2 separate regions of the Homo sapiens genome follow, and region 2 is linked to region 1. Evidence: fine-mapped expression QTL. A gene starts in region 1. The other region holds a variant in brackets. All regions are shown on one strand. Distances are between the middles of the regions.

What was found.
Region 2: its variant is fine-mapped to the expression of RAB38 in uterus (GTEx, PIP 0.98).

Annotation. Positions count from the first base shown.
Region 1 is chr11:88,169,213-88,185,527 of GRCh38, forward strand. It overlaps RAB38 (RAB38, member RAS oncogene family), which reads right to left and starts at 6,231. Exons shown (of 3, transcript NM_022337.3): 1 at 5,971-6,231. The coding sequence starts at 6,172. It overlaps MIR3166 (microRNA 3166), which reads left to right and starts at 7,290; the gene lies at 7,290-7,381.
Region 2 is chr11:88,289,751-88,306,065 of GRCh38, forward strand. It overlaps CTSC (cathepsin C), which reads right to left. Exons shown (of 7, transcript NM_001814.6): 5 at 10,780-10,895; 6 at 6,383-6,514; 7 at 3,842-4,758. The coding sequence ends at 4,256. Among named protein-coding and RNA genes, the nearest start is that of CTSC, 40 kb to the right of the region's middle. RefSeq lists enhancers at 7,632-8,325, 13,654-13,713. The variant G/A (reference allele first, on the strand shown) is at 7,867.

The DNA of each region.
Region 1 (16,315 bases):
TAAGGTATTTTGGTTAACACAAACTAGAAAGTCCACTGAATGTGGACAAATGTCTAGTTTAGACTTACAAATAGCATCATTTACTACTTATCATTAAGTGGGGGCAAATATGCATACATTGTTTGTATTTCTTTCTTGTTTTTCTTTTCTGTTTTCCAGCTTTGCTACACTGAGCACATATTACTTTATTAATAGAAAAAACAATCCTGTTTTCACACAAACTTTGTTATGCACATGTTCACAGGCAGTATAGGTGAGATATTGTAGAGGAGATGTTCAGCAGGAAGATGGAATTGTAAGCCTGAGCTCATGAGTAGTCAAGGATATAGGCATAGTTTTAAAGTCATCTGCATAGAGTTAAAGCCCTGGGAATGCATGAGATCCTCAAGCAAAGGAGACTGAATTAGAGGGCCAGATGATGAAATTCTGTCTCAAGTTGTGCAGCCCTGACGCACTCACAGGGAATGACTGGTGCTAGGTAAGAGCACAAGAAACATCACACTAGCCTTGAGGTTTTGTCAACTTCCTCAGATTTAGTCTCAGAGAGTAGGAGAACGAGGTGTGGACAACATCTCTGCACCATGAGAGTGTTCTGAAGTTATGTCTATCAATGCTCTTTACTTATTGTTACAGTGATTTGTTTTTGTGTCATCATGCTGATGAAGCTGGGATGAAGAAGTAAATCTTATTCAATTATTATCCTTCTTTGTTTTTCCCTCACCTAAGTACTTTCACATACCAGGCACTTTATATATACATACATATATTTGCTGAAGAAACCAATCACACATATAGAGCTACTTTTTCCAATCCCCTCCCACTCTCAAATGCCTTAGCTTTCCTTGGTCAAGCTGCTACTTGCTTTTCTATCAGAATCAGTCCTCTAAAACCCAGATGACACGACATGTCCTGCCTTGAGGCGTTTTCTCCATATATCCCTCATTCCTACTTTGAAAGTTCACCATTTTTGCTCACTGTACACATTATTTACCCGTAAGAACATAGCATGTTATTTTACGTGGCATTTAGAAAATCTGTAATTAGCTAAGCTAGAAACAAGGCAATAAACTGCCCAGTGGAGCATGGCTCAGACTCGATATGCATTTTGGGGGGTTTTATTTGACACACTCATCGCCAAATTTAGCTCTTTCTACATTCCTAGACCTACTACTTTGACATTTAAGACCCATCTTCTACAACTGCTTGAAGAAATAGTCTTTCAGAAATCGGTACTAAAGAGATAGTTAAGTCCGAATCCTATCTTTGGTTGAATTTCACAACCTGAAAGAACTTCACAAACTCTAAAACAACATAACAATGTGACCCAAATAAGTGTCAGAGTTGCTGGTGTGAAGAGTCAGTTTAAGGACTCCTGACACTGGGCCTGGGCTGCCTTCATCCTGTTACTTTGTCTATGGGACAGTTAATGTATTCTTCTGCTGTCATGTCACATGGCTTAGGTGGGGGAAGCTGGTATAGATGTGCCTTGAGTGGAAATATTTTTCTTATAGGGTAGATCTTATTTTAAGTATTTAGAGGCATTTGTTATTTAGCAGAGCTCTGCAGTCAAACTTTTACATAGCAAAGAAACACTCGAAACACTCTCTAAATTGTCTGCCAACTTAATTTATTTTCCACTATAGCAATATAAAACTGGATTGGGTTTTTTTATTACCAACAGACTTGGTTATCTCACTCATACAAGTAAGCTGAAGCTAAACAGACCGACTGTTCCTATTCTCCTCTGCCACTTATGATCTCAGGCAACTCTCTTACCTCTCTCATTTTTTATCTTTTTAAATAAAATTGGGTTTAGGACTATCTGCTTGTCTACACCCTCAGCAATGCTGGGGAGATCAAGTGGGAAAATGTATGTGAAAACAGTCTGTAATAATAACAATTATGACAACAGGAATAATAGCTAACACTCATTCAGCATTTATTATGTGTCAGGCACAGCTTTGCATAAATTAACTCATTTAATTCTTACAAAAATACTAAGATGCAGGTATTGTTATTATTCCCATTTTACAGACAGAAAACGAAGGCACAGAGGCTAAGTAACTCACACAAGTCACAAAGCTAGTAAGTAAAGAAGCTGGAATAAATGACCATGTGCTACCTATACCCTGAGGACAGTGATAATAAACCTTTTGCTTACAGAGACTACAAAAGATAAAATAAGTATCACAGGAAAATTAAATAATCATCATTTTATAGATGAGGCAATTGAGGTTCAGCAAGGTTTCACAGTTTGCCTAATTATATTTTCAGAGTATCTAAATTTAGAATATATTTAAACTATGTCTGAAGTGCTCTGTTTTCAAATTAAGGACAGTAGAGCAAATCTTTTGAAAACAGATTCAATGGTCAATTTTAAATTCTAGTGGCCTAACCAGCTATTATACTGGGAAATTATAGATTAAATATGCCTGGACATTCATAAGAATAAGGGCTTAAGAAATATTAGCTACTATCCCTATAAATGTCCCAATGCCTAGATCAGAGTCCCAAAGCACATCAAGAGTTCTAGACAAGATAGTACAGTTCTTTTTGAAAGGGTGAATGAGCAATTATAGTCTCTGGATTTGGAGAGTAATAAAAAAGTGGAGTCTCAAGTGTGAACTTTTTGTTTTCATTTTCCCTAAATGACCTATTTTTTTAAAAACTCTATAAATTCACATCCTAATCAAGATAAAATTTTCAGAAATAGATTTTAATTCATTCCTTTTCACTGAATGCACAGTGGTACTTAATAATACCAAAAATCCAGTTAGAAAGGAGAAGGTAAGTTTAACCCACCTACTAATGAAACAACACCTTTAAAAAGAAGGCATAATCCCTGTGGGCCAGCTGTGTGCCAGGCACTCACAGGCCAGCAAGTGCAAACAGCAAGGCTTGACTCTGAGTGAAACGGAACCGGGTCAAATCTGGCTCTTCCTCTACTAGCTGGGTGGCCTCAGGCAAAGTTACTTCATTTCTTTGACTCTATCAGGAGCCTCTGAACACACAGCTGACCTTCTAGCATGGAATCACTGGAATCCAGGCCAACTGCTGTCCCCTATGGGGTTTGGTGGGATTTATCATCTTGTTTCAAGGCCTACTTCACAAGACCCCAGAGATACTTTTTGGAGTCTTTCAAGATCAGACTGGCCAATCTACATGGCTATAAGAGACACATCATGGGAATTTAGTAGATTAAAAAGGGCCCTATTTGGCATTGAACCAAATGAGTATCAAGAGTCTAGCTGAGCCAAGATTCCCTTAATAACAAATGTATATGATATCCTATCAGAACAGTGCAGGTCTTCTCTATCTCATTGAACACCCACAACCTTCTCAAAGCTAGGCCCACTAACCTCCACTACCTGCTCTCTCCGGGGACACACCAGAGTTGAACACTAAGGACGGAGAGATGCATTCTTATCTGTGGACAGACAGGCTGTGATTTGAAAGTACTATAAGGTACACCTGGCTGACTGGAGTCTGGGTGGGCAGTTGAGGTTGTATTTCACATGAACTCATAACCCACATGGCTCCCTATGCAGCTTAAACCATGAAACATGGAGCACGTGCATGTTCCAACCATTTCCTACAGTGGCCTAGCTTTCACCCAATTCACTGTGCCTGCTGTCCAATCTATAATTCAGCTAACAGGGCCTTTGGGCTTAAGGCTGCTAAAGACAGGTTACCACTGAGCATTAGAGCTCTGGGAAAAACAAGCTCCTCTACTGAGATGTTGAATGTAACACCACCGCAGTATCTGTAGAATGAACTTCCCAAGACTTCAGATTTCTTATTTATACAGACTTCTGTGACTACAGCCTCCACTGCAACTTCAGTCTACAAAACATGGCTAACGAAGTGCTTTCGAGCTTGGGAGTTAAATTGCTCCTGAGAGTATGTCAGGAGCAAAGCTGAAAATGGTGATAACTTGGGGACAAAATATATATGTAATATTGGGATCACAATTTATTAGGAATTAATAAGCACTTGTATATCATATCCTTCTTGCCTAGCATTTATATAGGCTTAAAAAAATGGTAGCTAGTGTGATAATAATCCTTGCAGATCTCCTAGAGAACAGGCATGATCACCTTCAGCTAGCACTGTTGGTTGCTCACCTGTCATCTATTGGGAGAAAGCATTCTCCCTGTTTACAAGTAAGGAAACCAAAACAAGGAGGTTAGAGAACTTACCTAAGATTGCCTACTACATGCAGAGTAAAGTAAGGATCCAGATGGAGGCAGTTCAACTCTGGAATTTGGGCTATTAATCACTGTACCCTTCCATCTCTTCTGTTTATGTGAGGAGACTGAAATCTACAGACATAGAACTTCTCTGCTGTCATGCTGTTACCTGGATTGTACACAGAAGTCCAAATTACAGCTACATCCCCGTTTAAACAGTAAGCCGTTTCTAAATCTGAATCCTGAGGACTTTCGAGCAGCCAGAAGGGTTTTCAGACATTATGACATGCAGCAAGAAAGTACACAGAGAGAATTTTTTTAGATGAAAAGCCCCATCCAACAGTGGCTGATAACATTTTCTGTTCTCTGATAACCCCCTTGCTACTAGAGCAGCTGAAGATGACTCCAAATGCATGAATCTGTTCATCTGTTCACATGCTAAAAGAAAAAGGCCTGGCAGTTCATGATTAAAGAGGCACGAAAGTCCCCAGATCACAAATGCCCTTTCAAAAATTTTCCACATTTGTTCTAGTTTCAAGCCATGATAAAGAGTTTCCAATCAAATGCATCAGCTAAAATGAATCCATTTTCTGAAACAGAAGTGGCTAGTTTGGGTCCAGCACTTATAACGAAAGGTTCCTGGTGTCACAGACCATGAAATAAGACTGTTTGAAGTTGTTCCCATGGAGAATCCCAGAGGACTTTAAAACTTCTGAGCAGGAAGATCCTTGACCCTTGCCCAACTCCTTTCCACTTAACAGCGATGCAACTGAGCTGAAGAGACTTGTCCAAAGCCACTGAGCAGGTTAGTTAGTGGCAGGGCTAAAATCTGTAATGAGGGGTTGGTCATGCGCAGGTTGCAAACAGCCTTGTCCAAGGATTCACACTTGGAGTAGATACATTGCACCCTCACTTTTGACTAGGCCTAACTTCTGGTACAAACCTGTGGAGTCAAAATCTGATTTTAAATATTGTAAAAAACAAAAACAAACAACCTCTCATTTTTCAGATCTCTCAATGAAAACTTTAGGGCCAAATCAAGAAATCATAAGGCTATCATAGGCCCTTACATAAAAATGGCCTTAAAATATACACACAACCTCCTTTTCATAGAAGACAGAGAGCCAGAGAGATAGAAATACAGAAAGAGAGGGAGAAAGAATACTTTGCCCCTGACATATACACACAAAAGTACTTGGCTTACTGTAAGCAAAAAGCAAAAAAAAAAAAAAAAAAAAACAAAACAAAAACCCTCAAACTCCTTTGTCTTAAGGGCAGAGAGAAAGGTGACAAAATTTGAAATAAAGTGAGCCACTGAAGACAGGAATGGGCAAACTCCAGCTAGCCTGGAACTATCCCGGTTTCCTCTGTGAACCAGCCTAGGGGCTTCCCCTCGGTCCGCCCCTGCACGGAAGGACGTGCGTGACACTGGGCTGCGTCATTGGCAGAACTGCCCGCGCCCAGAAAACGAGCTGGAGTGGAGAACAGAATGCAATTGCAGACAATCTTCCTCTGGTTCCCTGGGGAGGCCTGCTCTGGGCAGAGAGATCCCAGGGGACTGTGCGGGAAGGAGCTAAAGCAATAGCCCAAAAGCGCCAGGGAATGCACTTGAAGTTTCAGACGTTTTTCTTTTCTTTGAAACTAAGTTTCCAGCCCACCAGGAAAAACTGCCTCGCGACCTAGTGATTTTAATCTCACGCTTGGCCGCAAGCCGCTGCCTCGAGACTGGAAACCGGCCGCGAGGCGCTCTATCCCCCTGACCCCCTCCCCCCGCGCTCACCTGCGATATCCCAGAGCTGCAGGCGCACCACAGTCTCCGGGTCCCAGTGGAGCACCTTGAGCGCGAAGTCCACGCCGATTGTGGCCCGGTAGTGCGAAGAGAAGTTCTGGTGCACGTAGCGCTTGATGATACTGGTCTTCCCCACGCCCAGGTCGCCAATCACCAGCAACTTGTACAGGTGCTCCTTGTGCGGGGCCTGCATCCTGGCGGCCGGCCAGACGTGCCGTGCCTGACCAGGGAAGCGCAGCCTGGGCTCTGCGCACGAGAGAGACTTGGGGAGCGCAAGTGTAGGTGCAGAGAGAGGCGTGGGCGGCGGGGCGGGGGCTGGGGGGCGGAACTCCTCCCCTAGGGGTTAATCCTCCTTCCTACTCCGCGGTCTTGGAGAGGGGAGGAGACAGGAGCGAGTCCCGGGACTGGCAGCTGAAAGGGGTTCGCGTGTGGTTGCCTGTTGCAGCGCTTATTTATCCGGCGCTTTAGAGTTTCCGAAGAGCTGTTTTCACCTGTGACCCTGGCCACAAACTTGTGAGGTGTGGATCTTATTTTCCACGTTTTGCTTGCGAGAAAACTGATTGTGAAAAAGTACTCTGCGGGAGATGGCCGGTGAAAGGCCCCGTTGACCACAGGTCTGAAGTCACAGGCTCTTAACTACCCCACACTGTAGAGAGAAATTACAGTATTAGGAAGCCCAAGACTGGCTGGGCTTGGTTCCTGCGTGCCCTGGTTTTTAAGTTGAGGGACCATAAGTAAGTCATTTGAGCTCTCACAGCCTGTTATTTCTCAATGAATGGCAATGCTGACCTCTGAGCAGCTTGGAGGTGGGAACACTGAGCACTTTCACACCCATTCAACTGGTAATCAGTTAACAAGGAGGACAACTGGGCCGAAAATGCCAAGGGCACTGGTGACTTTTAGCCTCTTCCCATATCCTAAAAACTCAGAGCTGCACAGAAAGACAGTTTTAACAATCGGTCAGATTATTACAAATAATAATAATGGCAAACATTTATTGAGCACTCGCTATATGCCAGAGGGTTTATAAATTATGTCATTTAGTCATCCCAGCTGTCTTAATAATAGATACCATTTTTCTTCCTATTTTACAAATGAGGAAGCTAAGGACCAGACATTTTAAGTAATGGACCCAGAGTCAAATAGTAAGGAAAAAAACCAAATTCAAACATAGGTCTTTAGGTTCCCAACTTCTTTTTGTTGTTTTTGTTGTTTGTTTTCATTCATTTGACCAATATACATTTTATTACCAATTAATATATGACAAATTGTACTTATTTTGTCTTGTCTGTCTCCACCTACAAGAAGGTAAATTTTTTTGAGGCCAGTAGGCATTGTCTGCGTTAGGATTTCTGTATCATCCTCCTAACGCAGACAATGCCTACTGGCCTAAGAAAAATTTACCTTCTTGTGGGTGGAGACAGGACAAGACAAAATAAATACAATTTGTCATATATTAATTGGTAATAAAATAAGGCAGAAAGGGGATGTGAAGAGATTATATGGGGTTTGCCTTTTAGATAGGGTGGCCAGGGAAGGTTTCAGTAAGATGGAGACAATTTAGTAAAGACATAAAGAAAATGAGAAATTGGGCATTCAGGGCTAGGGGGTGAGCAGTTTATACCAAAATGAGCTATTTTGTACCTGAATGTGCTGTGAAGGAGCTCTGCTCACATTCTATCATTTCATCTTCTCAATTGCTTTATGAAGTGGGTTATTTTCTTCAATTTATAAATAAGGAAACCAAGATTAACAGCAGCTTTCTCAAGGGCACACATAACTAGTATGTGTTAGAACTAGGACTTAAACACAGGCCTGTGTGAAAGGGAGAAAGGAGGTTTGGCAAGGCCATTGTCTTTCTGCCTTCCTCTTCTGGCCTGACACTCCCTAAACTTTAGCCTCCACATGCCCCAAACAAGCAGAGGGATGCTGAAGATGTGTACCCGGGACAAGTCACATAACCTCTGAGCCTTGGTTTCCACATCAACGAAAGGAGAATGATAATACCTATGGCAGGGCATGGTTGCTCATGATTGTAATCCAAGCACTTTGGGAGGCTGAGGTGGGTGAATCACTTGAGGTCAGGAGTTCAAGACCAGCCTGGCCAACATGGTGAAACCCGTCTCTACTAAAAATACAAAAATTAGCCGGGCGTGGTGGCAGGTGACTATAATCCCAGCTACTTGAGAGGCTGAGACAGGAGACTATCTTGAACCAGGGATGCAGAGGTTGCAGTGAGCCAAGATCACACCATTGCTCTCCAGCCTGGGTAACCTGAGCAAGACTCTATCTCTAAATAAATAAATAAATAAATAAATAAATAAATACAAATGAAATTGTTGATAAAATGCTGGGTCCATAGTAGGTGGTAAATAAATTGTAGCTATTACTATGAAATGAGGGACAAGCTTAAAATACTGTCCACAGGCACTGTCCTGTGCAGTTTCATCTTTCCTCAGAGAGTAACTCAGAAGTTTTGCTCAGAATGGACACTAAGTGACAGTGTGTAGAATTGCAGTCGTTTGTGTTTTATTGAAGTGCTTAGCTGGGTAGGCCTCATTTACTGGTTTCCACCCATGCGAGGACACACCAAGAAGATCACATCTAACAAGTGAGACAAATACTCTACCTGCTTAAAGAATTAGCCAACAATGTCACCTCACTTCCCAGGGAGGGGAATTCAGTAGCCCAAGATGCTTAAGCCATTCTAAATGCCTGCAAAATTAGGGAGGATGACAAAATGAGACCTTTGCCAGCTCTAAAATCCTGGGTCTGTAAATCTGAGAGACAGGCTTTGTCTGGCCAACAAGCTCCTGGGGTAGAAACAAGGTAGGAGTTTGAGACATCTTGTGGGCCAGCCTTCAAAATTATACCCAACCCAACTTTCTTACCAGCCCCGTACTGTTTTCCCAAGCCTGGTCCCGGCAGAGTCATCCTCACCCTTATCTGTTCTCTTTTGAGCAAGAGCATATTGGAACATCAGACATTTGGATTTATGAGGTAGGACAGGCAGGGCAAAGTTCAGGATTTCTGGTCCTGAAGCTGATAAAATTGGAGGAAGTAGCTTTTTGAGCAAAAGAATGCAAAATCAAAAATATATAATTAGGTCTAGGGCCTTGGAAGGGGTCCTGAAGCTTCAGTTTTATTGCCTCTCTGGGGGTAGGAGATTCCTCTCTCAGGGACAGCAGCCAACCATGGTGAGCAAGTTCCTTGGCCAGGCAGGAAGTATGTGCAGTTTTGTTTCCAGCCGTACTCATTTAGGTCTCATGATCATTCTTCACAGTGGGAAGAAATTACTCTCGGTTTATATTTTTAAGACTTTTAGATTACAGTAGCTTGGTAAGCACCCCAGCCTAGCAGTTCAGTAAAATCTTCGTAAAAGGCGCCTAGGTCTCTGAACCTGAAAGTCCCTTGGGTAAAATGAGGGAGTTAGGTTGCAAGATCTCTGGAAAGTCCTTTGGACTCTAAAATATCAGAATTCTGGGTCTTCTAGACATTGTCTAGTAGGAGTGACACCCTAGCTGATTCTAGTCACCCCACAAGAGCACCACTGCCAAAGAGGTGATGTTTTCTCTCCTCTTTTAGGTTTGGAAGAAAGGCCATCTCAAAGCAAACATGATGCCATAGTTCTCCTCTGGTTTCATGGTGCTATTCTTTCCTCTGCTGCTGTACATTTTCCCACAAGACAAAGGCAATCCAAGAACATTCTTTTTGGAGGACAAACCTTCATGTACTCCCCTTCCTTGCTTTGAACTTATTTTCTACACTCAGAACTAGGCTGCAGACAGGGAGCCAGGTAGCCAGGGACAAACTATAAACTGGATCAAGCCAGACAGTGAATAGATGGAAAGGATATTATCAAGCAGCTAGACCATTCTTGCCTCCTCTTTCATTCAACCCTGTCCCCTGCAATTATGATGCTTCTTCAGAACCTATCTTCCCCAACCTGAACATATACCTGTCAAGATGGCTTAGGATTATCAGGAGGATCTCAGCTTTTTCTGACACAAAAGATCCAGTGCTTCCTCCCCATGGAGAGAACAGCTGTGCCATTCGTCCCCCTCCCAGCAGCCACACTGCACCATGGAAACCTGTTCTCCACAGTAATTCTCAAAACATCTCTGGTGATGTTTTGACAAGCTTACTACCCTCAAATTGCTAAACCACAGCACATCTTCTCACCAAGGTCGGGAAGGCTGATGACTCAAGTTTGTAAAAGGTGTGTGAGACCACAAAGTGCTCAGAATTCAAGCCAAGAATGATATCCCAGAAGGCACAGCATTAGGTTTCTCTTAGTCTCCATTCCCTTTCTGTCCAATGTGGGTACTTAGTCTTATGAAATGGAAAAACTACAATGATTGCAAATTGCTTTGCAAATGTAAACTTGAAGGGACAAACCCTCATGTTTTCCTCCTAGAGCTGCTGTGTTTGGTGAGCCCCTGTGAAGTCACATTATTTGCTTTTGCCATTAAGAGAGCCATGGGGAGTTATTCATTAGCTTATGTGAGCTTTTAATTATTGCTCTGAAGAAATATGTAAATGACTGCAAGATGGGGTCCCAAGGGCTCTGTTATAGAAAAGGTAATCTAATTTTTCTTAGATTAATACAAGAAATATATCTTACAACAGATGAATTTTACTCTGCAAAAGGCCTGGAAGAAATGACCATATATTTTATCATTCAAACTATGACTCTTGAGAGTGAAAGGGGGCACTATGAATAATTACACCAAACAACAGGAACAAGCCAGGACTTTCCTAAAGAATATTCATTCCTAAAGAAGAGGGAGAAGTTGAGGCTCTCAAATGAGATCTACAGCTATAGGGGCTTTGGAAAATTCTCCTAAACCACAATTTTAATAAATAGGTCTGCCAAGTTAAAGTTGCAGCTTATTTCTTTCTTGTCTTCAAAAAGTTCTCTCTTTACCCACTAGGCTTGTCTGAAACCTGTGCTAACTTGCAATTTGAGTCATCTAGTATTGATTCAGGATTGCAGCAGATGTCTAGAAGTAGGAAGCAACTTTTGGGTTATTTGGAGAGAGGCCAAGATGGATTCTGTATGGGATGTTCTTGAAATAAATACTCTTCAGTCTATGAGAAATTTCTGGCTAGATTTTTTTCCAGAAAAAAAAAGACTACAATAGGATATTTACGGGTTATCATGAGAAACTGATTGTAAGTGCATTTTTTAACCCACCAGTAGTATGAATCAAGAAAACCAGAGTATGACCTAAACCATTTTCAGCAGTGTATTTATCACCAACTAAAATTATGTGCCTTAGCTGTGCCAGACAGGCATGGCTGAATCGGGGTGTATTTTTCTACTAACACATCTAACATGGATGAGTGGAAATAAGCTATGGAATGGCCGAAAGGCAAGCATCTGAGAACATGGAGAAAAATGATTCTGTATGTACTAGAATTTCAACTTCCTTATCCTGGGAACCTACAATGAGCTAAGCCCTTTATCTTGGTAAGTTTATTTGATCTTCACGACCACTCTGTAGCAAGTATCTTCACTTTATAATGAGGGAAATAGGGCTCAAAGAATTTAAATAATTTTTCCAAAGTCACAGATATGGAGTGACAGCATGAGAATCGTAACCAGTAATTCCTAAATCTGTGCTTTTTCTACTATACCACACTCCTTTAGCATGTGATAAATTCCAGGTCCAGGCTTCTACTGTAGCTTTGTTTCTGCTATGCTACTAAATATTCAGGCTATAAAGAAAAGAGATTGATTCTATTTCCATTTGATAAAGTCTTAACTATGCAGGGAAACAGCCAATAAAGGAAGAAAAGAAAAATCTATGATTCAAAGATAAAAGGATATATCCCATAATCTCTCACCAACTCGGGCAGAAAGTCAACACAAGTAAAAGTGGCATGCTGTGCATTTGTGGGGAGAGGTCTGACCCAGTGCACATAGAGAGCATATACAAGGAATCTACTTCTGTTGCTCTCAGAGAAGGCGATAGGATAGTACTGAGGCTGTACAGTGAATGAACCCCTATTCCATAATGGGTGATGACAGAGAGACTGGTAGGGTCTAGCTCAGAAGGTTAACGCAAGAAAATTACTGACAGACCATCACAGCATAAACGAAGAAATATTTATGTACAAAGCATTGTAACAGAGTTTTTTGAGGATCAGGGTCAGAAGAAAGGTCTCACGTTTATCTCAAAGAGTGTATAAGATATAAGTCCCTGCCATCAAAAATGCTTCCATTCTGGTTAAAGCATCAGCATGTATACACATGACCTTCTGCCTTCCACTCTGACCTTCTTAGACTCCTTCACAACTTCCCTTCTTTTCTGCCCATCCACTAAAGTTTGCTATTCTTCATCCTTGGGACTCTGACTTTCCCTGCTTGAGCTCATCTACTCCTGTGACAATAGAGCAAATGGGGTTAGGAACTCTGGAATCAGGTGAGCTTACCTGATTTCACATTCAAGTTCTACCACTACCCAGTCATAAGAACTTTGTAAAGTAGTTTAACTTTTGCAAGCTTGTCCCTTCATGTATAAAATGAGGATAATAATTTTAACCTCCTATTTTTTTTTTGAGAAGACCAAATAAAATTCTGTGAAGTGCTTAGCATAGTGCTTGGCCCAGGATATGCACTGAAAAGAACATGTTGTTAAACTATCAAATGTCTGCTGATGATTTCTATATCTGTATTTAAAACACAACCTTACTCCTGCATTCCATAAACTTGTTCCAACTGCCCGTTGGGCATTTCTACCAGGCTTTCTGGCAGACAGTTTAAATGCAACATGTGCAAAACTGAACTCATTATCTACCCTAACAGACTTGTTCCCTTTCCTGTATTCCTGGTTTTTGGTCAGTGGTTCCACCCTCACCAAAGTCTACCAAGCTCAAAAACTCAGTCACTCTTGATTCCTCTCTCTTTGTTACCCATCTCAGACAAATTCCTGACAGCATTTCCACTACTTCACAAAATTACTATTATAACAAAAAGGTGAATATTTATGCATTATTATTGTGGAGAAAGGACCTTTGAATATTATGTGAAAGGCAGAAATAATAAAAGGAAAAAAAAAAAACTAAACGTGTAGACATTAACAATTACCAGAAGCAAGAAAAATGATACTTTCAGAATGAGAAAAATTTTACAACATTTAAGACAGGCAAAAGGAAATATACCTTATATTAAATTGTTCTAATAATTTTTTAAACACTAAATTAGATAAAGATATAAATAAGCAATTGACCACACAAGACAAACAAAAAGCCAATAATGTGAAAAGTGTATTTTTCACTAGGATAGTAATAAAAGTATGAAAATTAAGCAATAATGTAATACCATTTTTTACTTTTTAAATTGACAAATATATTTTAGTACTAAAAATATCCAATTTTGATGAGAATGTAAAAAATGGATACTATCATATGATCCTGTGGTGGGACTAACATAAGAAAAAGTTGTTAAAGGGAAATGTGGTTATATGTATCAAAAACCTTAAAATGCATGTGCCCTTTGTTAATTCCATTTTTAGGAATTTATGGTAAGGAAATCACTAAAGATGTATGTGACGATTTAGCTTTAAGAATTCCGATTGCAGTGTTGCTTATAAAAACAAAAATTCACAACTCCCTAAATACACATGAGGTTAAATATTGTAATGGTATACGTATGTGCTGGCACATTATACAGCCTTTATAAACAATGTTGAAGAAAATATTGCAGCTGGAAAAATGTTCACAATTTTTTTCATAACATTTTTAAATGGGAGGTCAACAAATCACAAAAAGTTAGAGTCCCCAATTTAGCATAAAATACATAATTTCCATTTTACACAAACATGCACACATTGTCGATGGAAAAAAGGTACAGAAAATTATGTACCCACATATTAGAGTTTATCTCTGGATAGTGAGATTATTGCTTCTTTTTTATATATTTTCCTGCTTTTCTATATTCATTTCATTTTTATGGAAATGTTATTGATATCAAAAGAAGAAAACAAAGTTAAAGTCAAATGTGTACTGAATAGGTCTTGGATGAGGATTTCCAGTGGCTCCTGTTCCAGGTTTCAGCATTCAGTGTGTAGAGACAATGAAGTTTCCTGTCTGGCCACCAAGTGCTGGGTGTTTTAGGTTTCAGTATTTTTCTAGCCAACCTTTCTCATTCTGATCACACTAATCTTATCAGCGCTGAGAGGTGTGCCCTCCTAAGGGAACCAACGCACTATTTCATGGGTGGCATGATCAGGCTGATACTCCAAAACCAGTTAGACAAGGTACTCACGCTGTCCTGGAGTGTCTCTGCCATAGTAGCCCTGGCTTAGCTCATGAAGACAAGCTCCATGTGCCTGAAAGGGAATTGACTGTCTCTTCCCAATTTGGATTGAAATTCCCACCAGGGTCACCAATATCCAAACCTTGATATCATCTTCACTTCTTTTCTGCTTGTGCCCTACTTTTCCATTTCAACACCAACTTGCAAATTCTTCTCTCCGGTGTCTCTTTCATTCATGCTGTCATTTCAGTCCCTCTTAATATCTCATCAAGTAGTTGTTCCCTAAGGACATCTTCCTGATTCAGTTTCCCCTGCTTTTTCCTATCCCTTACCACTCTCAGATCAATCTTCAAAAATAAATTACTACAAGCTGGGCATGTTGGCATCTGCCTGTAGTCCCAACTACTGGGAGGCTGAAGTGGGAGGTTCACTTTAGCCCAGGAGTTCAAGTCCAGACTGGGCAACATAGCAAGACCCTGCCTCTAAAAAGTAAAATAAAATAAAGTTACTACTGCAATAGGACACTCACTCCTCTTATCCCAACCTCTGAACTTATGTGTGAGAGGAATACATTGTTTGGTTTAACCTTTGGATGAGTTGGGTTTTCTGTTTATGCAGCCAAACCAAACCTTAAATGATAAATCTCCTTGAGTCTGAAAGAAGTCATGTCTCTGCTTAGCATGCATATATAATAGCAGTTTATATGTATGCCATTTCACCATTCTACCTCTCCCCAACATTCTTTTTGTAGATTTTGTTGCCCTCCTCTTTGACTCTGCCCATGAAATCAGAAGCATATACCCTACCAGCACAAGGTGCAGCCTGCTCCATGATACTGGCATGCTCAAGAAATGGTCCATACTTGTTTATGCCAGGCTGTATTTAATGTCTTGACTACTACAGGCACTCAGTAAGTCTTTTAATGACAATGAAAAATATGAATCATGCAAGACCATGTCTTATGTTATTGGCAACAATTTTGAGCCTGAAATGCAGTAAGCTACCTGGCATTTTGTTTTATTTATTTTATTTTATTTTTTTATAAGAGGCTTGAACTTTGCTACTGGCATCCATAAAAAGCAATGGGAAGATGAGTGCACAAAGACTGCTAGTGTGGAAGTTATTGGGCTGCATTCCCTTACTGACTCTGCCACTAATTTCAGAGTCAGCCTGATCCCTTTACTTCATACACCCTTTTAACCTCCTTTGAGTATCTTCTCTAAATTGATAGCACCTTCTCAAAAACAACCAGGTCATATGCATGAAGGGTCTTAAAGATAGGCATAATTATCCAACAACTAGTAAGTACCCTTTAAACAGTTGTTCCTCTTCTAAAAATCTGTCCCAAATAAATAATCAGGCAGTCTTTCCAAGATTTATGCACAAGATATTTAATGCAGCATTATTTTTAGTAGCAACCTAAATATTTTTCAATAGAAACTGGCTAAATAGACAATGTCATATCCATAAAATTTAATATTTTATAGCCATTAAACATCATGTTTATGAAGAATATTAATGGAATGAATATTCATGCTATTGTATTATTTGGAAAAAAGCTAAATATAAAATTACATATATATGTCATACATATATCAATTATCCAGATTTTATAAATATATGTACATGATTATACATATAACTAGAACAAACATTTTTCTTCTTTATACTTTTCTAAATTATCTAGGATATATATGGATTGGTTTTAAAATCAATGAAATTAATATGTAATTATCTTGAAAATCTTTAAGGATTTACTATTTATTTTTTATTTATTCTTGAAATTTTGAAATTTTACAGTTAACACATCTTGGTTTAAGTCACCAAGCGGTCTCTTTCATCTGGACACAGATGCTTTTCATTTATCAGAAGCATTCTTGCATTATTTCTTTGATAATTTTCTCTCTCTTTTTATTTGTTCTCAATCTCTCAAAATTTTTTTTTTTTTTTTTTTTTTTTTTTTTTTTTTGAGACGGAGTCTCGTTCTGTCGCCCAGGCGGGAGTGCTGTGGCGCGATCTCCGCTCACTGCAAGCTCCGCCTTCCGGGTTCACGCCATTCTCCTGCCTCAGCCT
Region 2 (16,315 bases), 120 kb after region 1:
GGAACTAAAATTCAATGAGGTCAATACTTTACAGTTAATATTTCATTAGGCCCAGTGACTAACTGACCCACTACCAATACACAATTCTAAGTCCATGTGCTGCCCATCAAAGAAGATTCTGATATATCTAAAGCTCCCCAAACTTGGTCAGGAAGATTCTACTTAGCTTTAAACCAAAAATAAACCTTCATTAGAGTTAAGAGATATAACTATATTAACATCACTATATTTAGAAGAAAACTGTTATATTAATCTTTCCAAACCACCACACATGGATTGGCACTCAGAGTACCTGCCCCAAAGAAATGAGAACAGGATTTCTGGGAGGTGGCACAAATCTTGGAAATGATTTTAAAGAACAAGGTGAGGTTACTGGTCTCACAACATTTAAGAATGGAAACATTATTTTGCCATTTTTCTTAATTGGAAGGCAGCAGGTACAATAGAAAGTTCTGGACATATTGAAGCATAGATTTATCTTTATTAGCTGGAAGCTCAGGCATGTTACTTCACCTCTCAAGGCCCATTTTTAGCAAGAGGTGGACTAGATAACCTTCCAGCATTAATGTGATGTGAATCTGTTATGCTTACTTTATCTTCATGCTTTTAGAACCTGAATAGGAAAATCAAATTATTATGACTTTACATTACCTTCAGTCTTTTTCACTTCAAAGTTGCAATGTCTTTTCCCTGGCTGGGTCCTGTTACTCATCCCTGTGGTAGTCTCTCAAACTCCATCACCTCTCAGACTTGTTCTCTTCCCACAGGCAGCAACACAAGAATGGTGGTAGTGAGGGATAAAAAAATTTTATAGTAAAAAATAAAATTAAAACCATATGCCTAACTCATAAAGCTTTTTGCTTTTCTCTGTGCGTTTCCTTGTGCTAGTGTTCCTCTGTAGGTTCTTTTCGCCCTTAAAAAAACAAACAAAAAACCCCTCATAAGCCCTTCTCTATCCTCTTGTCATAGAGCTTATTTATAGAATACATCTTATCTGATTCCTCATAGCAAAATATTATTTTACAATTTGAGTTCAGAAAAAGATAATATTTATTTACTCCTTACCATATGCTAAGCACTGTTCTATATACTTCATATATATATATATATATATATATATATATATATATATATATGGCATTTAACCCTCAGAGAACTCTATGAAATATGTATACATATTCCTTACTATCCAAATCTATTCAGTTCCTGAGTTCTGTGAGCAAGTTTTTATGATCAGGGAAACTGCATTGTCTTTAATTATCTTTAGCACCTCCATTTGGAATGATGAAGGGCCTGAGTTTAGATAGCAAGTAATGCTGTTAAAAATGCAAATACAAATACATTTAGTTCCTTTGTTGCAATGGTAATGGTTCAGAGAGGACAAATTCATTAGCCGGGTATGGTGGCATGCACCTGTGGTCCCAGGTACACAGGAGGCTGAGGTGGGAGGATGGCTTGGTCCCAAGAGGTTGAGGCTGCAGTGAGCATGACTCAAAAAAAAAGTCAGAAATTCGGACAGTGAGAGAGATATCTATGCCATTTTCTCTACTTTTACAGAAAAGAAAGAAAAGAAAAGGAAGGAAGGAAGGAGAAGGAAGAAGGAAGGAGAAGGAAGAAGGAAGGAGAAGGAAAAAGGAAGGAAGGAGAAGGAAGAAGGAAGGAAGGAGAAGGAAGGAAGGAAGGAGGAAGAAGGAAGGAAGAAGGAAGAAGGAAGGAAAAGGAAGGAAAAGAAAAAAGAAAAAGTAAAGAAAGACAAGAAAAGAAGAGGGAGGGAGGGAGGGAAGGAGGAAGGAGGAAGGAAGGAAGGAGAGAGAGAGATGAAAGAAAGAAAGAAAGAAAGAAAGAAAGAAAGAAAGAAAGGATGCACAGTGCATAGGTAGATAAGGAAACTGCCTAAGGTTTCATGGCTAATAAGATACAGAGTCAAAACTCTTATCCAGGCACTACAGCTCCAGAGTCAATATTATGCTTGTGTTAGACTGCCCAGCTAAATATTATTTTTCTTCTTTGTGACCTGTGGCATCATTTATGTAGATAATCCTTGTAGATTTTCTGGGAATGTCTTTGGGGAGGTTAGCCAGAGTTCCCATCTGATTTTTTTTTCTAGAGCTCCATTTGTTAAAAGACTCCGAGTATGTGTTCTATTAGCATCAATATAAAAAGTTCTAGATACTGACACCAACTGCTTTTTGTACAGCTTAACAGTCTAATCGCATGGTTTGTGGAACCCTAATGTTCCATTTAGTCACTGTATTTGATGAAATCTGCAACATGGATGATATAAATGATCTTTCTGTCATACAGAAACAGGAAAAGCAGACTTCGACAGTAGATAAATCCAAGTTGAAATGTAGTCTATCTTAAGTTCTTATTCTGGGCAATCCCTCATAATCTCTGAAAACTTAGGGCCTCTTCAAATCATTGCTTGTCCTCAAGCAAACATGTTGTATAATCTGACTTCCATGCCAGTTAGGTTCACACCAGTATTTAGCCATTTAATATTTCCTAAAGTATTTAATGAATGACACCAGCAATGAATTTACTTAAGAGCCAGTCAGGGCCCTCATGAAATAGTGCAAAATCACAGGCACTCTACATCATGATGAGTTGTTCTCATGTGTCAGCCGACTGCTGTCCAACTGGAAAACTAGAGAATAAATTCATGCTTACATGTTAAATAGAATTGTGTTTGTTAAACTGACAGATAGTATCTTCATGAATTTTAGTGAAAAAAAACTTATGCTTGATTTCAAAGGTCTGTTTATATGTTCACATAGCAGTGAGGCTGGGCACAAAATAGGATGGAAATTACATTCAATCAGTAACAATAAAAAGAAAATGTATCTCATCTCCTTGGAGGCCTTCCAATGATTCCGACCCTGGCTATGCCTTCCAGTGCTGTTTCTGTGCCACCATGTGGTGAAAAGATCAAAGGTATGTGGCAGCATGCCAGGAGGTCCAGGAAGCCAAACTTTAAATGGTGCATACTCCTGGAGCCCTACTGCAGTTCAAGGAGGGTAAAAACATCATTATAGTGAATTTTAATGCAGAAAATACGTGGGTTTTGCACAAAACTCTGAAACTCAGAATGTTAAGGTGAAATTTCCAAGCATGCAGCTAGTATCCCTGGTGATTGCAGATACTCTGGTGGGAAATGCTGAGATTCAGTGCTCGAAGGTGCTCAAAGAGAACTCGGTTTCGAAGATCTAAGTTTTAAGCATGACTCCATCACTTGCCAGCTGTGTGACCTTGGACACATCTCTTGCCCTCTAAGTTGAGTCTCTATCTGTGCAAAGAGTTTAAATTACATGATCTTTATGGTCCTTTCCAGCTTGAAAAGGCTGTGGTCCGTGTTTATGTTTCAGAGCTCTGACTGCCTTATTCTCCTGTTACATAATTTCTAAGAGAAGGCATATGTTACTTAGCATAGAGGTTTCATATCCACTGTGAAATATCTCTGGGAGATTCCAAAAATCTATTTAAATCTAAGCTGCTAGTATTTCACTCATTAAGCTATTATTGCTCACCTACTGAAGACTAAGCAATACTCCCAAATACAAGATACACACCATAGAAAATAAATTCACCAATATCCAGATTTTGTCAAAACTCTTATTTCTTTTCTCTGAGGTCTCAGACTCATCAAACATCCAAGGATAATTTTAGGATTCACTAGGCATTATCTGAGTATATCTCCCTGTCATAAAGGTTCATAGTTTTGTTTTTAATTGAAATATCTTCAAATGCTTTTCCTTCTTAAATAAATGCTTACATAGGTAACATAAGTGAATCTTACTGAGTCAGTGATAAAAATTCCCTGAAGTAAACATAAACTCCATAATGCAGTTATTTTTAAAACTTTATTTTAAAAATATGAGCATCTATTTTAAAAGTTTTGATAATTATTGCCATTATTTTCTTGTGATTGGTACAATTTAAAAATAAGTCTATGTTTTCACATTGATTTTAAAAAATATAGCATGTTTGAATTACAAATGATTAAGCAAACTCTATTACTTCATAGCTGACCATCTTCCAGAAAATTCCCACTTAATTGAATACTTAGAAAAAAATGGCCAGTGGCCGATTGAAAGGTATATTAAAATTAAGGGCAGTTTTAATTCTGAAGACAAATATCTTCATGGAAATCTATTTGTAAGCTTCTGAGATTGCTGCTGAAAGTCTACAGTCTGTGAATATACCAATTCCCCTTTACAACTGATGCAGATCATTATGAAATACTGGAAGGCATACCCTACAATTTAGGAATTGGTGTGGCTGCCACTGCTATGCTCTCAATTGCACACTCATCAGTTCCTCTGCGGATCCGGAAGTAGCCATTCTCACCCCAGCCGGTGCCCCAGCTGTTTTTAACAATCCAGTAATCCATCCCAGAGGCTGAGTCAGTGCCATAGCCCACAAGCAGAACAGCATGATTAGTCAGCTCAAAGGGGTTGAAAGGGTCTCTTAGACCAGTGTGGTGGTAGATCCCCTTTTTGTAGTGGAGGAAGTCATCATATACTTCAAAAGCAACTGCCATGGGCCCATGATGGACCAACTCAAGCTTCATCAGGGCTTCATTGCAGCCTCCATAGAAACCTCCTACATAGTGGTACTCAGAGGAGTAATAACGAAAGCAGTCTTCCTTCATTTTGCATGGAGAATCAGTGCCTGTGTAGGGGAAGCAAGCTTCTTCCACCAGCCCAAAATCTTGGGCGTACTTTCCTGCAATAAGGTATGGGAAGCCGCCTTCACAGCCTGAAGATGAATAACACACATGGTTACCCCTTAGTAGAAAAAGGATTATCCCATTTTCTATTTTTTCTTCTTTGCTCCATTATTCTTTGCATGTTACCCCTGAAAGTTGTTCTTAGCTTAAGCATCACTTCATTCATCCATCCATTTTCCAACTAGCTAACTATCCTTTCATCCTCCTTCTACTTAACAGATATCTACTTAGCACCTAATATGGATGTAGCTATGGCAAAGTGGTTAAGTGGGGAGGCTCTGAAGCCTATATAGGTTTAAAGCCAAAGCCGTGTGAAGAGTTTAACTTCTCTGTATCTCTGCTTACTTACCTGTAAAATCTAGATGGTAGTAGTACTTTCCTCATAGGGTTAAATTAGTTACTTCATGTAAAAATAGCAAAAGTTAGGTATTATGGTCATTGCTAAGCAGCCAGACCCCACAACTTGGCTCTTTCTCAAGCAAGTCTTTTCCCTGACAACCTCTTGCCGAAATGTCTTTCCTACCTTCCTCATGCAGTCCTGGCCCTATTATATATATTATAACTCTGTACTTTTTCTTCACTGTTCTTCACTCTGTTGTTATAATTATTTAATCTCTATCTCTTACTTAACTGTAAGCTTCATGAGGATAAAGATTGTCTTGATATATTATAGCCCCTATAGCCTACAAGTCACAACTAGTAGTACATATTTTAGAAAGAATGAAAGGCTCACTGGCAAATAATCACTCATCAGCAGTTTCACTAGTGAGCTGGGAAATTCCTAGTGGCCAAATCTGGGCTTGAAAGCATAAACTTTAAAATGGTAACGTTTCTCCCTCAATCAATTATAGCTGTGTTTTCGACATACATCACATACAGCCTGATCTGAAAGCCTAAGTACAGATTTTTTTTTTTTCATAACAGGGCCTCACTCCGTTTGCCCAGGCTGGAGTGCAGTGGCATGATATCGGCTCACTGCAGCCTTGACCTCCTGGGCTCAGGTGATTCTTACACCTCCGCCTCCTGAATAGCTGGGACTACAAGCACACACCACCACGCCCAGCTAATTTTTTGTATTTTTAATAGAGAAGGGGTTTCGCCGTGTTGCCCAGGCTGGTCTCAAACTCTAGGACTCAAGAGATTCACCCATCTCAGCCTCCCAAAGTGATAGGGTTATAGGCATAAGCCACTGTGCCCAGCCCTAAGTACAGAATTTTAAAATTCTCCCAGAGAGAAACCAGTGTTAGTATAGTTTTAATAAAAGTTGGGTTTTGGAGACGATGATTAGAAGTGAAACTCCAATGCTAAAAGCTGTGAGACCTTCAAATTATTAGAAAAATTTCTTAGTTCCTGTTCCCCGCCCATAAATAGGGATTATACTTACTACTTCTCAGAGTTTTGAGCATTGTTAGGCAATATATGTAACAAGCAGAGCTCACTCAATATATAGTAACTATTGACATTTTGCTGGATGGTACAGTAAATTCCATGAGCAATCATCCATTAATAAGTGATAGGGCCAGACTTGCACTCAGATTTTCTGACTATAGACACTGCGCTCTCTCTACTGCATCATCCTTTTGCCTTTGCCAACAACAGCCAGCTGCACACAGGTAAATAGCTCATAAATGGTGTCTGAAATGCAACACTTACCTTGAGCATACTGGCTACAAGACACAACCTCCTGAGGGCTTAGGATTGGGGTCTGAGAATTGTTGGTTAGTATACGGATTCTCGCTTCTAGCATACCCATAGAAGCAAATGAGTAGCAGCTGCCACAGGATGCTGGCGATGAAAAAAAGACACATAATCCAAGAGACATCTGAAGCCTCACAGAGAATCATGCAAAAACCTTAGTGAATCACATACATTAATGTTTATACTGAATGTTGTTGTTTATAAGAATCAGCACAATAAGAAGACTCAACTAACAAGCATTGTTGAGCTTATTAAGGCAATCATTAAGATTTCATCCTTTTTCATCAAAAGGCAAACATTAGTACATGGGACTTTCTTTGAGAATATTTTAGAAACTAAAAAAACCCCTCATAATTTCTGAGAAGCTTTTGGCAATATTCTTGATAATGATGAAAGGATTTATGTCTACAACGTTCAAAGCCATCAGGTTGGGTGATGGAGGAATACATGTGAGCTGTGGAGGAATACACGTGAGCTGAGCTTTCAAATATCTCTAATGCAATGAGATGAAGGTTTATGTCCCTCTAAAATCATGTTAAAACCCCAATCCCAAAAGTGATGGTCTTAGGAGGTGGGGCCTTTGGGATTAGTGACCTAATACAAAAGGCTCCAGAGAGAACTCTCATCCCTTCTACCATGTGAAGTTATAGAGAGAAGTCAGCCTGTGAGTCCTATTTCCTTTTAACTACTGCCATTTCTGATGTTCCCTAAAATTCTCCCCCTAAAAATCTCAGATTGACCATATTGTACACTGTTTTGCTACTGAGAGATTATCTAAATTATGAAGATTAGAAAAGCACTTGGAAGAAGGACCTGTGAATTCATCTAGTGTACAACCTGCTCACTTGATAGATAACGTGTAACGGTGGCTCAGAAAGAAGCAATGAGCTGTCCAAGGACACACAGCTAATAGATAGCAGGGACAAGTGCCTTACTGTCTCCTAAGGCAGGATTAGTGTCCTTTTCAATTTATGGGTCTGTGTCTACTTTAACAAATATTCAGATTTTCTCTCCCTGTCTCGTAGTCACTAGACAGGGCAAAATTAGCTTATATCTTTTGTTTTCAAAACCATGCAGATGATACTATCCATAGGACCCATCCTTCAAATGACGGAATGTCAAAGAACATTGTACATTGTACACTGAACATATAACTGTGTTCAGCAGTACCTTCCAACAGTGAAGAACACACTGAACTAGGAGTGAGGATACTTTTTTTTTCCTCCTTTCTTGTTTTGCCCCTCATTAGCTGTGCAACACTGGACAACTTACAAATACACCTTGGCGCCTCATGAAAGGAAACCAATGTCAAAGAAATAACACAACCCAGGAGAGTCTGGAAAAGGTCCCTTTCTGACCACCCAGCTTTCTTGGCCCATAGCAGCCATGGAAATAATCTCTCTCAGTACTGGTCATTAAACTCCCATTATCTGACCATC[G/A]ATCACTGTGGGAGGCACAGGCTGCAAGTGCATTCAAGGGCTCTGAATGTGTTCTATTTACAGAGCAATCACAGGAACAAGGGAAGAAGATAAACTTCATCAAGCCCCTGACCTGTAAGAATGTGTCAGCTACCAAGGTAATTAATGCCTCATTTCAACAGCCAAGGCCAATCTGATTCTAAAAGAGCCATTTATCTCTTAAGAATACTGCAATGCAATAAAGAATAAGAAGTGAATCTAGCCCAGCCAGAGCTCTGCAGTAATCAAATTTCTACAATCTCAAATAGATAGTGTGATCTTCATATGGTATAACTATGTTCAGCAGCACCTTCTAACAGTGAAGAACACACTGAACTAGGAGTCGGGAGTCAGGATTCTTTTTTTTCCCCTCCTCTCTTGTTTTGCCTATCATTAGTTGTGCAACACTGGGCACTTGACCTTTTGACACTGTTTTTTTCTTTTTAATCTTTTGTGTAAAATGAATTGGGTGGAGCAGTTTAAGGTCTCTGCCTTCCTGCTCAAATAATATAAATAGCATTTTGAAACAAGACTTAAATGGACTAGACTTTACGCATTATGAAAACACTCTGTATTTCCTAATTAATGTGACCCAGGAGAGACACTTCCCTTCTCTCTTAAAAATACAATAATAAATAAAAACAGCATAGCTGGGAGAAGAACAAAGAAAGCCCATTCTGCCGTATTTCTAAGCTTCTCTTCCCTCTCATACCTCAAAGTATTAATAAATCTAGGTATAAGGCTTGTTCTTAAATCTGTTTTCAAGTGTAAAGGTAAAACCTCATTTGTCCTCCCACTATTTCTTTTTTCTTTAATTTCAATTTGCTCTCTGACTACAGAAAAGCTGTGAATTCCCTTAATTGCAGCTAATTCTGAATTCTGGGTTATACAGAACACTGGTATTGGCAAAGTTGGTGGGAATTTTCAAGTAGCCCAATTAGCAGGAAGAGAAAATACTTTTTTCCCCAACTTACAGTATAGAATACCAAAAGAAAGTCAAAAGAGGAAACTTTAAGTACATTATTTTCTCAAGTACCTGACAAGATACTGTAGATGAGGGATCAATTCAAAGCAATTAATCCATCAAAGCCCTCTGTTTTGAAATTGCCATTTCTCTGTACAAATCATACTTATAACAGTCAAAGAATAAAGAACATGGGAGAAAATAACAGCTTTTACCAAGCTATATGAAAACCAATGTCAAATAATTTGGCTTTAGAAAGTCGAATTTCCTTTCCCTGAATTATTATCTCATATAACTTGTCAATCATTTCTTTTGGGAAGGGTTTGCTAAACTCTTCTACCTTCTCTTATGTTACCAATGAATTTAAAAAATGCTTTATTAAAGTAGTTATCATGCTTTACTTTAATGTTTTGCTTGTATGTCTTGCTAAACTGTAAATCACTAGGACAAGGACTATGTCATATTAGTCTTCATTTCCTCTGCCATTAAAAAAATCCTAATATATTTTAGATGTTCTGGTAACAACACCAGAAGCAACACTATAGTATCAGTAGCTCAAATTATATCATGCCAATGCTATCATGTGCCAGGACCTCAATGATAAAGTCAACACATAATATGCACTATGAATTAATCCTCTCAGGCACAAAAAATCTATTTGGTGATAGCATAACTTGCAATCTCTTAACATGGACCCTTCAATTTCACTTTCCATTCATTTCTCAATTATCTTCAAATTTATCTTATTTCCAATCCCACTTTCCAAAGAAGCCCTCCCCAGGAAATTGAGAAGGTAGGGAAAGATTTCAGGACCTATACTTTCTTTAGAGCTGAAGAGCCCAGAATAACTGGTAGAAAAGCAAAGAGACGAGACCCTTGGTGTCAGATGAAAAACAGAAATGTTGCTGACTGGCTGTTATAAGACCCACTTGGGGCTCTCAACATTCAGAACACTGCAAGAATTCAGTGAGATGGGAGCTTGGAGGGCAAGTGATGAAAATGAGACACGGCAGAGACTGATTATCACTAAAAGTTTAGGAAAGGGAAACAACAGTTTATCTTTGGGTACTATAAATTTATAATCCTCCCAGGAGACACTAATCAGAATGTTTCCAGACAGCAAATACTAAACCTATTTTATAGTAACAAATCAGCCATGGGTAGTATTATCTTCAAAATGAGCTTAGAAGTAATAAAACTGAGTATTGCATAGATTCTCCAAGTCATTGTTGGCTACAACTCAGGATAACAAGATAATTTGCTATCAAGTGCAGTTAGAGGACATGTTATGAAATCAACTCACATTGTATCAAACTTCTGAAAATAACTGGTAAAATTCAATAATAGGAATACTTTTCATGAACCTGGGTTCCGCCCTCACGCCATCACTCAGGAAGCTGGGTTAATACTTACCATCACATATCGTATTCTAATGTAAAGTGAATTGAAAGGTCCTTACACAGCTCAAAAAATCTACCAGGAAAATAATTTAAGGATTTATTTTACGGGTTCATGTAGTAATTAATGACTAAATTAATGGGGGTGGGGGAATACAGGAACAGGTATCAAAGAAAGATTCCAACAAACCACTTGCAGAATGGTACACAATTCTTTGCTTCTACTAGAATCTTTCCTACTAGGAGGACAAATGAGTTTGTCTTACATATCACTCTGATTGTCACTAGCTACCTGGAAAATATATTGAGAAGAGTACTGAATAAATGCTAAGCTCAGTAGAAAAGAAAATTTTTTACTAAAGTTTGTCATGGATATAAAAGGAAAGAATAATTCATAGGCCACCTATTTTCTATTTCTGTAAAAAGGGGATCATGCCCATTCCATCTAGGTATCCCCGAAATCCATCACACAGAGCAACTGTTCAATAAATAGTTCCAAACAAATTAACAAAAAACTTAGGCTTATTTTTTTACCTTGGTTTCGAACAGGACTGACAAAATTGATACCATGAACATTTCTCCAGTCCCAAGATGTTGGCAAATGCAAAATCTTTTGCTGTATTTCAGCAGTCAGTGGTGCAGGTTTGGGCCTAGAAAGGAAATATACATTTGATATCAACATATAATCTTTCCTTTGAGGATGATTTCCTAAACTCTACTATAATTCTATGATTTCAGCTACCAGACTAGCTAGGATCTAGATTCAGACCCAGAGCACCTGTTTTATGAGTGATTCAATGTGTCAATTACACAATGGAGTTGTGTAAATGGCTTTCATTCGCTGTTTCTTTTTCAGGATCTAGTATTGATAATTTTCCTTTGTGAAATGACACTGGTTTTGTATATCACTGTGATGTTATTTTTAGTTTGCCTGAATAGCTGCATTCTTACTCATTTTTGAAAGATTTTTGACCAAGAAAGAGATGAGAAGTAGAAGACATAAGAAGGGTTTAGAGAAAACAGAGGAATCACTGATGTTTGACTTAGGAGACAGACACATTGGTAGTGAGGTGGCTGTAAAAGAAGTGAAGTTGGCAAAGGGAAAAAAGGGTCTATGTGAGGCAGGAGAACAGGTTCTGGAGGCAGGGAACATAAGGCCAATTCACACTGACTTCCTAGAACTAAATAAAGTGGAAACACTTCAGCAATGGCAGGAATGCGAAGGGCTTTGTCACTTCACTTCATCCTCTCCGTTTACATGGGCCACAACCCCCAGGAGTAACACCCTCTCCATTAACACAAGGCCTATACTGAGTAAATGACTTTGTAACTTAACTCCACCCTCTTCATTTACATAAGGCATACACCAGGTAACCAATGGGAAACCTCTAGACGGTATTGAAACCCCAGAAAATTCTGTAACCAGGGCCTTGAATCATTTACTTAGGCCCACTCCCATCCTGTGGAGTGTGCTTTCATTTTCAATAAATCTCCGCTTTTGTTGCTTCATTCTTTCCTTGCCTCATTTGTGAGTTTTGTCCAATTCTTTGTTCAAGAAGCCAAGAACCTGGACACCCTCAACCAGTAACAAGCATAACACAGGCTGACTAGCTCCGTAAACAACAGATAAAACTGTTTCATTATAGAACCACACCTTATATGACAGTGTTGGGCTGTAAGACACACAAAGGAGAGTTGCCTAGGCCCATGAATGAACGGACATTTTTGGGAAGTGAGAAAATTGTTCTAACAGCTTCTCTGTATTAGCGATTTCACACATACATACACATGCACACACACACAAACACACGCGCGCACACACACACACACACACACACACAGAGAGAGAACCACAGCTTTAGACACATTCGACTTCTTGGAGTTTCCCCAAGACTGCCAAATGGCCTCTCTGTTCTATATCTTTATGCTGCTGCTCCTGTAACCTCAAGTGCCTGTTGCTCACCACTTAAAACTCCCCTAAGAGTTTTTCCCTAACTTGTAATTTTCAAAACTGCTCATAAAGTAGCCTCCACTCACCAGCCCCCAGCGAAAACTCACTTCCTCTCTCTCTCTGCTCCTTCAAATTTGTTTTTAGGGCACTAGTCACAATGTGGTAAAAATTATTTTTTGTTACTATAAACTATTTGAATTTCTTATTCAACTGGGCATTGTCATATCACACTGTTCTAGTTTTTCAGTGGTTACCAGATGTTTTTTACTAGGCTAAAATTTAGTCAATGGCAAAGATTCTTTCTGGGCTACTTCATGCCCTCTGCACCTATCCACAAATGGTCCCGTCTCTCACAGCTTCTCTTAGATATAACACAGGTTAAGAATACATGACAAGGGGCCAGGCGCGGTGGCTCACGCCTGTAATCCCAGCATTGGGAGGCCGAGGCGGGCGGATCACGAGGTCAGGAGATTGAGACCATCCTGGCTAACACAGTGAAACCCCGTCCCTACTAAAAATACAAAAAAAAATTAGCTGGGCGTGGTGGCGGGTGCCTGTAGTCCCAGCTACTCGGGAGGCTGAGGCAGGAGAATGGCATGAACCCAGGAGGTGGAGCTTGCAGTGAGCCGAGATTGCACCACTGCACTCCAGCCCGGGTGACAGAGCAAGACTCCGCCTCAAAAAAAAAAAAAAAAAAAAAAAAAAGAATACATGACAAAATGGAACTGAGATGAAACAAAGAGAAAAACAACAACGATTTCTTCAAAAATAGCAATTGTAACCTTGACAATTGTATAGATTACACAAACACTAGTTAATTGTTCACTAATTTTTTCTCCTAAGCCAGTCACATTGGTTGAAGATATACATGATACAGAGATAAATATGAGATGGTCATTAACAATATGGAAGACAATGTTAAGAGACATAATATACACAAAGATTACTATAACAAGTTACAGTAATGCTATAAAACACACAATTTGGACAAAGTCTATATAATCAAGGATCATAAAAATCTGTGCCTCATAGGTAATTTTATATATAGGGTGAGAGAAAAAACAAAGCTTGGACATTTCTTCTAAGATGTATAAATAAAAACTAAGATGCAAACAAACCATTTCCATCTTTGAATGGAAATAGTTTCTGTGGTTTCACATTGAGAGAGTATGTTGAAGAAGAAACTCAATTTTTTTTTAATTCTCTCACTGAACACTATCAACTGTCAACACAAAAGACTTCTGTGATCAAATGCATGTGGGTTTTTCCCCACAAATCAAGCAAGCAACCAATTTCACAGTGAATACTAGCTGGGTGTCCTCCAATCCAGTTTTGACACTGTGTACTTAGAGATGGCATCAGATCTCACAGGCTGAGGGCTCCGTCCCACAAAACTGCCCCCTACTTCTCATGCCAATTGAAAGCCCTAGGTTGTTTACCTGTGCTTCTGGCCAACCAGCTATAATGTGGGGATCCTATGACACCCTCCTTGGGTTCAATTAATTTGCTAGAGTGACTCACAGAACTCAGAGAAATACTAACTAATGTTTAGTGGTTTATTATAAAAGATACTACAAATGAAACAGATGAAGAAATGAGTAGGGCAAGGTATGGGGGAAGGGGCACACAGCTTCCATGCCCTCCCTGAACACGCCACCCTCCAGGAACTTCCACTTGTTCAGCTATCTGGAAGCTCTCTGCACCCTGTCCTTGTGAGCCTTATATGGGGACTTCATCAAATAGGCACAACTGACAACCATGTAGAGATGTGACTGGACATAAAGGGAATGATGTAAACACAGCAAGGCCTGTCCAGATTCTTCTGAGCCTCTCTCTGTTCAGTGTTCCTTCCTTTAGGGTATGACACAGGACATCTTTGGAAATGAAGGTCTTATGACCCAAGATCAGAAAGGCAGGAGAAGATTAGAGTGCTGCCCTGGGCAGGTGAGAGGAGGGCGGAAGAAGATCAGAGAGAGAGAGAGAGAGAGACTCTGTTTTCTGAGGCCTACTTCTGAGGCCTAATGTGCCCCAACGTTAAAAGATAGTGACAAGGGCTATGGGAGTTATGAGCCAGGAACTGTGGACAAAATCTAGTATGTGTTAACTAGTTGTCTTGTTTAAACCTAAGAATATACTAATATAAAGGATAAAAAAGAAATTTAAGTTTGGCAGCATAATGTAATTTCAGGGCATATGATTTTATCACTTACTATCTGTGTAACATTTGGCAAGGAACCTAACATTACAAAACTACAGTTCACTTCTATTAAAGTGGGTATAATCATGCTTACCTCAAAGGGTTGTTATGAAAATTCAATGTAATAATGGGTAACAAGTGCTTAGAACAGTGTTTTTCTCTGATAAGTCCTTAATAAAATGGCAGCTGTTATGAAGATAACATTCATATCATTAACAGGACTAAATAAGATGCTGATACAGTTTAAAGCAATTATCTGGCACAAAACAGTCATTACAATATTAAGTTCCTTTTTTCTACCATCCTATAAGGCAGAGATTTGCCCATCATTGCACACACAAACAAAACAAAAACAGTGTGAGAACTGAGGCTTAATGATGTTGTCAAAGGTGTTTGACCCAGAGCAACTCCATCTTGAATAGGAGCTGGGTAAGATGAGGCTGAGACCTACTGGGCTGCATTCCCAGACAGTTAAGGCATTCTAAGTCATAGAATGAGATAGGAGGTCAGCACAAGATTCAGGTCATAAAGACCTTGCTGATAGAACAGACAGGCTGCAGTAAAGAAGCCAGCTAAAACCCACCAAAACCAAGATGGCGATGAGAGTGACCTCTGGTCTTCCTCACTGCTACACTCCCACCAGCACCATGACAGTTTAAGAATGCCATGACAGGCCAGGTTTGGTGGCTCACATCTGTAATTGCAGCACTTTGGGAGGCCAAGGTAGGCAGATCACCTGAAGTCAGGAGTTCAAGACCAGCCTGGCCAACATGGCAAAACCCTGTTTCAACTAAAAATACAAAAATTGGCTGGGCATGGTGGGTCATGCCTGTAATCCCAGCTACTTGGGAGGCTGAGGCAGGAGAATCATTTAAACCCAGGAGGCAGAGGTTGCAGTGAGCCAAGATTGCTTTACCGCACTCCAGCCTGGACAACACAGTGAGACTCTGTCAAAAAAAAAAAAGAATGCCATGACAATGTCAGGAAGTTACCCTCTATGGTCTAAAAAGGGGAGGCATGAATAATCCATCCCTTGTTTAGCATACAATCAAGAAATAACCATAAAAATGGACAACCAGCTGCCCTCAGGGCTGCTCTGTCTATGGAGTAGCCATTCTTTTATTCCTTTACTTTCTTAATAAACTTGCTTTCACTTTGCATTGAGGACTCGCCCTAAATTCTTTCTTGCACAAGATCCAAGAGCCCTCTCTTGGGGTCTGGATCAGGACCCCTTTCCAGTAACACTGTGAAAATGAAGAGAGAGCAAGAGGAGTCTGGGGGATAAAAAGGTGAGAATTACAAACATTTTGAGTACAAGATACAGGATTGGCTCTTAATCTTTTGGCCCACATTCTTTACAAATCTAGTGAAAGCTCTAGATTCAGAAATGCTCATAAACAATAAATGCTGTCTGTAATTTCAGCAGTTTCAAAGACTCCCTATATCTCAAGTTAAGAATCTTTGAGAGTTTCTATTACGTCATTGGATTCTTAGAACAGAACTAATTTATAAACAAAAATGCTAGTGAAAAATCAGGAAGCCAGATTATAATATCTGCTTTCATATTTCCTACTTCACTCAATTCCATCTCCTTATCTTAAACCTTCTATAAAGCTTTAGTCATGAAAACAGTCCTTCATAAACCCAGCCCTTGTCTAAAACAAAAGTGGTTGGCTGGAGGGAGAAGGGAGCTTTAGCAGGAGTCCTCAGAAACATAGCATATGACACTTGGTAAAGCAGCTGTGACTGAGGCTCCCATCTTTCAGGCAGGAGCCACAGTCTCCCTAGGCTCAAGTGCTAACACTCCTCCTCTTGATGCTTGTTTGGATTTTTGTTGTTGAATAGATCTCAGCTTCCTGTCTCATGCAGATACATTAAGACACATTAGGACTTCACTTTGGTGAATTTGAGAAGGGGATATG